2 separate regions of the Homo sapiens genome follow, and region 1 is linked to region 2. Evidence: fine-mapped QTL for protein levels in blood plasma. A gene starts in region 2. The other region holds a variant in brackets. All regions are shown on one strand. Distances are from middle to middle. Region 1 overlaps STAT2 (signal transducer and activator of transcription 2). Region 2 holds the start of STAT2 (signal transducer and activator of transcription 2).

The links. A credible set is the group of variants that fine-mapping cannot tell apart. PIP is the posterior inclusion probability: the model's chance that the variant is causal. The UK Biobank Pharma Proteomics Project read protein levels with antibody pairs (Olink). The fine-mapping took linkage between variants from a reference panel, not from the people measured, so its PIPs are less certain.
Region 1: its variant is the best candidate, but not a certain one, in a credible set for the plasma level of the STAT2 protein (UK Biobank, PIP 0.61). The variant lies in the coding sequence of STAT2. If it changes the protein, the assay may bind it differently, which can mimic a change of level.

Annotation. Positions count from the first base shown.
Region 1 is chr12:56,342,459-56,345,316 of GRCh38, reverse strand. It overlaps STAT2 (signal transducer and activator of transcription 2), which reads left to right. Exons shown (of 24, transcript NM_005419.4): 23 at 1,182-1,492; 24 at 1,786-2,858. The coding sequence ends at 1,928. Among named protein-coding and RNA genes, the nearest start is that of IL23A, 5.0 kb to the right of the region's middle. The variant G/T (reference allele first, on the strand shown) is at 1,850.
Region 2 is chr12:56,358,607-56,361,497 of GRCh38, reverse strand. STAT2 (signal transducer and activator of transcription 2) reads left to right here and starts at 1,391. Exons shown (of 24, transcript NM_005419.4): 1 at 1,391-1,440. APOF (apolipoprotein F) reads left to right here. Exons shown (of 2, transcript NM_001638.4): 2 at 1-930. The coding sequence ends at 273. RefSeq lists enhancers at 909-998, 1,069-1,248, 2,324-2,493, 2,325-2,524.

The sequences.
Region 1 (2,858 bases), 16 kb after region 2:
GGTATCACTGTGTTGCCCAGGCTGGTCTTGAACTCCTGGCCTCAAGCAGTCTCCTGCCTTGGCCTCCCAAATTGCCGGGATTGTAGGAATGAGCCATGGCACTTGGCTGGGGATAGAATTTTTTTTTTTTTTTTTTTTTTTTTTGAGACAGTCTCACTCTCATTGCCCGGGCTGGAGTGCAGTGGTGCAATTTCAGCTCACTGCAACCTCTGCCTCCCAGGCTCAAGCAATTCTCCTGCCTCAGCCTACTGAGTAGCTGGGATTACAGGCGAGCGCCACCCATGCCTGGTTAATTTTTGTTTTTTTTTTGAGACAGAGTCTCGCCCTGTTGCCCAGGCTGGAGTGCAGTGGCACGATCTCAGCTCACTGCAACCTCTGCCTCCCAGGCTCAAGCAATTCTCCTGCCTCAGCCTCCTGAGTAGCTGGGACTACAAGCGCGCACAACCACCACACCTGGCTAATTTTTGTATTTTTAGTAGAGACAGGGTTTTACCATATTGGCCAGGCTGGTCTCAAACTCCTGACCTCATGATCCGCCCACCTTGGCCTCCCAAAGTGCTGGGATTACAGGCGTGAGCCTCTGCACCCGGCCTAACTTTTGTATTTTTAGTAGAAACAGGGTTTCACCATGTTGGCCAGGCTGGTCATGAGCTCCTGGCCTCAAGTGATCTGCCCGCCTCAGCCTCCCAAAGTGCTTGGATTACAGGTGTGAGCCACCATGCCTGGCCTGAGAGTTTATTATGCGCCAGGCACTAGGCTAAATGGTTTGCATTTATTTTCTCATTTTATTGAATCTACAAAATAGTCCTGTGAAGTAAACACTGTTACTGTTTTCAGCTAAGGAACTGGATTTAGAGTAGTCAAGTTTTGTACCTAAGGTACGTGGCTAATGATACAGGTCTGTTAGATTCCGTAGCCCTGATTTTAACCACCCTACTGCCTCTCAAGAATTACTAGGTATTGTTCTCATTTATAGATGATAAATCTGAGGCTCAGAAAAGTTAGGCCACTTGCCTAAGGTCCCCCAGCCAGGATTCAAACTCCAGGAGGCCTGATTCCAAACCCATGCTCTTTAGCCCTCCGCCCTACTGCCTTCTTAGACTAGCTTCTGCTTATTCTACCATTCCTGATTTCATTTGAACCACTGAGCCCTGCCCCTTTGTCTGTCTTTGGGTATCCAGACAGGTGGATGAACTGCAACAACCGCTGGAGCTTAAGCCAGAGCCAGAGCTGGAGTCATTAGAGCTGGAACTAGGGCTGGTGCCAGAGCCAGAGCTCAGCCTGGACTTAGAGCCACTGCTGAAGGCAGGGCTGGATCTGGGGCCAGAGCTAGAGTCTGTGCTGGAGTCCACTCTGGAGCCTGTGATAGAGCCCACACTATGCATGGTATCACAAACAGTGCCAGAGCCAGACCAAGGACCTGTATCACAGCCAGTGCCAGAGCCAGATTTGCCCTGTGATCTGAGACATTTGAACACTGAGCCAATGGAAAGTAAGTGATGAGATGGAGCTATGGAAGATGGCACACATTCCCTTTCCTACCTCTTCTCCCTCTCCCATTACAGAAAAAGCTGAACTCCAAGCTCCTCATTGGAGAGAGGTCCATTCTGTGATTCCTTTTTTTAGGAATTACACATGCCTTCCCCCACCTCCCTGCTCTTTCATCCCACAAGTTCCCACTCAGGCTCTTCCCAGGCCTTTCCTGCCATCCTCCCTCCCTTTCCCTGCTGGGTTGGGAACTCCTAACTAAGATCGGGGCCTCACTTTTCTCTCTGGATTACCTAGTCTTCAGAAACTGTGTAAAGATTGAAGAAATCATGCCGAATGGTGACCCACTGTTGGCTGGCCA[G/T]AACACCGTGGATGAGGTTTACGTCTCCCGCCCCAGCCACTTCTACACTGATGGACCCTTGATGCCTTCTGACTTCTAGGAACCACATTTCCTCTGTTCTTTTCATATCTCTTGCCCTTCCTACTCCTCATAGCATGATATTGTTCTCCAAGGATGGGAATCAGGCATGTGTCCCTTCCAAGCTGTGTTAACTGTTCAAACTCAGGCCTGTGTGACTCCATTGGGGTGAGAGGTGAAAGCATAACATGGGTACAGAGGGGACAACAATGAATCAGAACAGATGCTGAGCCATAGGTCTAAATAGGATCCTGGAGGCTGCCTGCTGTGCTGGGAGGTATAGGGGTCCTGGGGGCAGGCCAGGGCAGTTGACAGGTACTTGGAGGGCTCAGGGCAGTGGCTTCTTTCCAGTATGGAAGGATTTCAACATTTTAATAGTTGGTTAGGCTAAACTGGTGCATACTGGCATTGGCCCTTGGTGGGGAGCACAGACACAGGATAGGACTCCATTTCTTTCTTCCATTCCTTCATGTCTAGGATAACTTGCTTTCTTCTTTCCTTTACTCCTGGCTCAAGCCCTGAATTTCTTCTTTTCCTGCAGGGGTTGAGAGCTTTCTGCCTTAGCCTACCATGTGAAACTCTACCCTGAAGAAAGGGATGGATAGGAAGTAGACCTCTTTTTCTTACCAGTCTCCTCCCCTACTCTGCCCCTAAGCTGGCTGTACCTGTTCCTCCCCCATAAAATGATCCTGCCAATCTAATGTGAGTGTGAAGCTTTGCACACTAGTTTATGCTACCTAGTCTCCACTTTCTCAATGCTTAGGAGACAGATCACTCCTGGAGGCTGGGGATGGTAGGATTGCTGGGGATTTTTTTTTTTTTAAACAGGGTCTCACTCTGTTGCCCAGGCTAGAGTGCAATGGTGCAATCACAGCTCACTGCAGCCTCAACCTCCTGGGTTCAAGCAATCCTCCTACCTCAGCCTCCTGGGTAGCTAGCACCATGGCATGCG
Region 2 (2,891 bases):
ATGGGTCTAGCGATCAGTGCTGCACTTAAACCTGCATTAAGGTCTGGGGTTCAGCAGTTGATCCAGTATTACCAAGATCAGAAAGACGCAAACATCTCTCAGCCGGAGACCACCAAGGAGGGTTTGAGGGCCATCTCAGATGTGAGTGACTTGGAAGAAACAACTACTCTGGCTTCTTTCATATCAGAAGTAGTAAGTTCAGCTCCCTACTGGGGGTGGGCCATAATCAAGAGCTATGACTTAGATCCTGGGGCTGGGAGTCTTGAGATATAAAAGAATGTGGTAACCACAGAATTAATAACTGTACTACCCTGACAAGCTATATACATGTCTTCAAAATTTTAATCTGATTTATCCAGGAGGAAGGCTGTACAGTAAAACGTAAGAACGTAAATGTTTGGGTGTTGAAGTCACAGGGTTTGGTTTCGAATCTAGGCTCCACTTGTTAGAGCCTCGGTGATCACTGAATAGTAACTTCTTTCTTGAACTAAGATCAGTTTTGAAGTTTCTAAAGGAGATAGAATGATTTTAACCTCAATGAGTTGCCCTGTAAATTTAAAATGATACAATGAATCTAAAATGCTTATCACAGTACTTTCAATAAATAGCTATTAGCCAGGTGCGGTGGCTCACGCCTGTAATCCCAGCACTGTGAGAGGCTGAGGCGGGATGATCACCTGAGGTCAGGAGTTCAAGATCAGCCTGGGCAACATGGCGAAACCCCGTCTCTACAATAAATACAAAAAATTATCCTGGCGGAGTTATGCACGCTTGTAGTCCCAACTACCTGGGAGGCTGAGGCGGGAGAATCACCTGAGCCTGGGAGGTCGAGGCTGCAGCGAGCCGAGATCGCGCCGCTGCATTCCAGCCTGGGTGACAGAGCGAGACCATGTCTCAAAAAATAAAAATAAAAAAAAATTGTTTTCATTACCTCAGCCCTCCTCTTCCTATCCCAAGGCGTCGAAATTCCGGTCCCACCCCTTCCCATGGAGCCCTTGGCGTCTCCAGGCTCCTCAAGCTAGTTTCGGTTCCGGGGCTCACGCGCGGGTTCTCGAAAATCAGCTGTTTCAGTCTTGGGCTAGTCCACTAATTGGACTCCTCCCCTCGTAGAAAGTGCCTACTTGAACTTCTCCACCAATCGCTGAAGCTGCAGGTGTGGTTTCGGCTCAGCTTGTCCCGCCCTGCGGAGGGGCGGAGTTGCGGCGGCGCCAGTGAGCTCGCAGTCTGGGAAGGGCTTGACTGAATGGCAGCCAGTGTCGGGGTGGCGGCTGGGAATGGGGGCCGCTCCGGACTTCCGCTGCCAACTACAAGGGGGCGGGTCCGAGGGGGGTTAGCCGAAGTTGTAGGCGGGGCGCGAGGTTCTAGTACCCGAGCTCATACTAGGGACGGGAAGTCGCGACCAGAGCCATTGGAGGGCGCGGGGACTGCAACCCTAATCAGGTACGGGCCCTGAGAGGGTGTGCTGGGGTAGGGGTGGGGGTGAGAGTGAGAGTTCCTCCGAGGGAAGGGCGACTGGCCCCAGGGGTTACCCCCTGGAGAGGGTAGCTTCGGTCCCCAGATTGAAATAGGAGCTGTCGCCTGCTCGGTCCTCGATCTTCTTCTGTCCAGCCTATCTCCCTAACCCTAATGCCCCTCTCCCAAAACTGCCCTGCAGCTTCCGAGACCCGGAATCTGGCATTGTTATGTTGGTTCGGTATCTGACGTTTTTCCCTCTGCTCTGCATTATTTTTTATCTTCACCAAAAAACGATGTTCAAAGATAGATAAATCTAAAAACAAAGATAGATAAATCTATTATCCTTGTTTTGTTAAAAAGTATAAGCTACTGAAAGATGAAACGATTGCCTAAGGTCACACACAAAATTCAGTTCATTTCAGAAAAGCTTCTTGAGTGCAAAATATGTGCCTAAGAATGAGAGATAATGAGAAAAAATTGTTTCAGCCCTTAACCTCAGTGTTTGCAATCCATTTGGGGAGACCAGGTTTTTTGTTTTGTTTTCATATTTGAATCTTTGCTGACTTGCTCCTTTAATATCAGACACTTAAATCCTCAAGAATTGGGACCTCATCATTAATTTTTTTTTGGAGATGGAATCTCACTATGTTGCTCAAGCTTGGTCTCAAACTCCTGGGCTCAAGCCATCCTCTCGTCTTGTGGGCCTCACAAAGTGCTGGGATTACAGGCATGAGCCATCATGCCTGGCCACCTGATCATTTTTTTAACTTTTTTTTGGTATCATAAAAGCAATACAGATACATAGTTTTAAAAATCAAGCACTACTAAAAGAGTTAAAATGAAAATAGCCCCTGCCCAATCCCTCCCTTCCCTTGTTCCTGCTGGAGGTAGAAAGGCAGCTGATGTTATTCATGTTAGTAGAAGACTCTCCCACCCCAAGCATTTCTCTTTATTTTGTAATAAAATCATGTGACCTTTTTAGACCACAAATATGCATGAATTCTGTTCTGTTAGGCTCAGGCTGCAACAAGCATAAGTTTCAGTTTCCTAAATAGACACCAGCTGGCAGTGAGCAGGGAACAGTGGGGAGAAAGATGCATGGGACAGCCTGCTTGGTGACAGGCAAAAACCAATTTGTTGTTCTTTTGAGACAGAGTCTTGCTTTGTCACCCAGGCTGGAGTGTAGTGATGTGATCTCTGCTTACTGCAACCCCTGCCTCCTGGGTACAAGCCATTCTCCTGCCTCAGCCTCTTGAGTAGCTGGGATTACAGGCAACAATTTTAAGTGAAGTTTCAGGATCTCACAAAGTTGATAACCTATAATCATATTCAAGATTCACAGGTCATAAACGTGTCATATTCTTGGGATTGAGCCACCCATTGCACAGCATTTAGATGTCTTCTAGAATGGAGCTCCTCCTTCCTATATGGAGGGC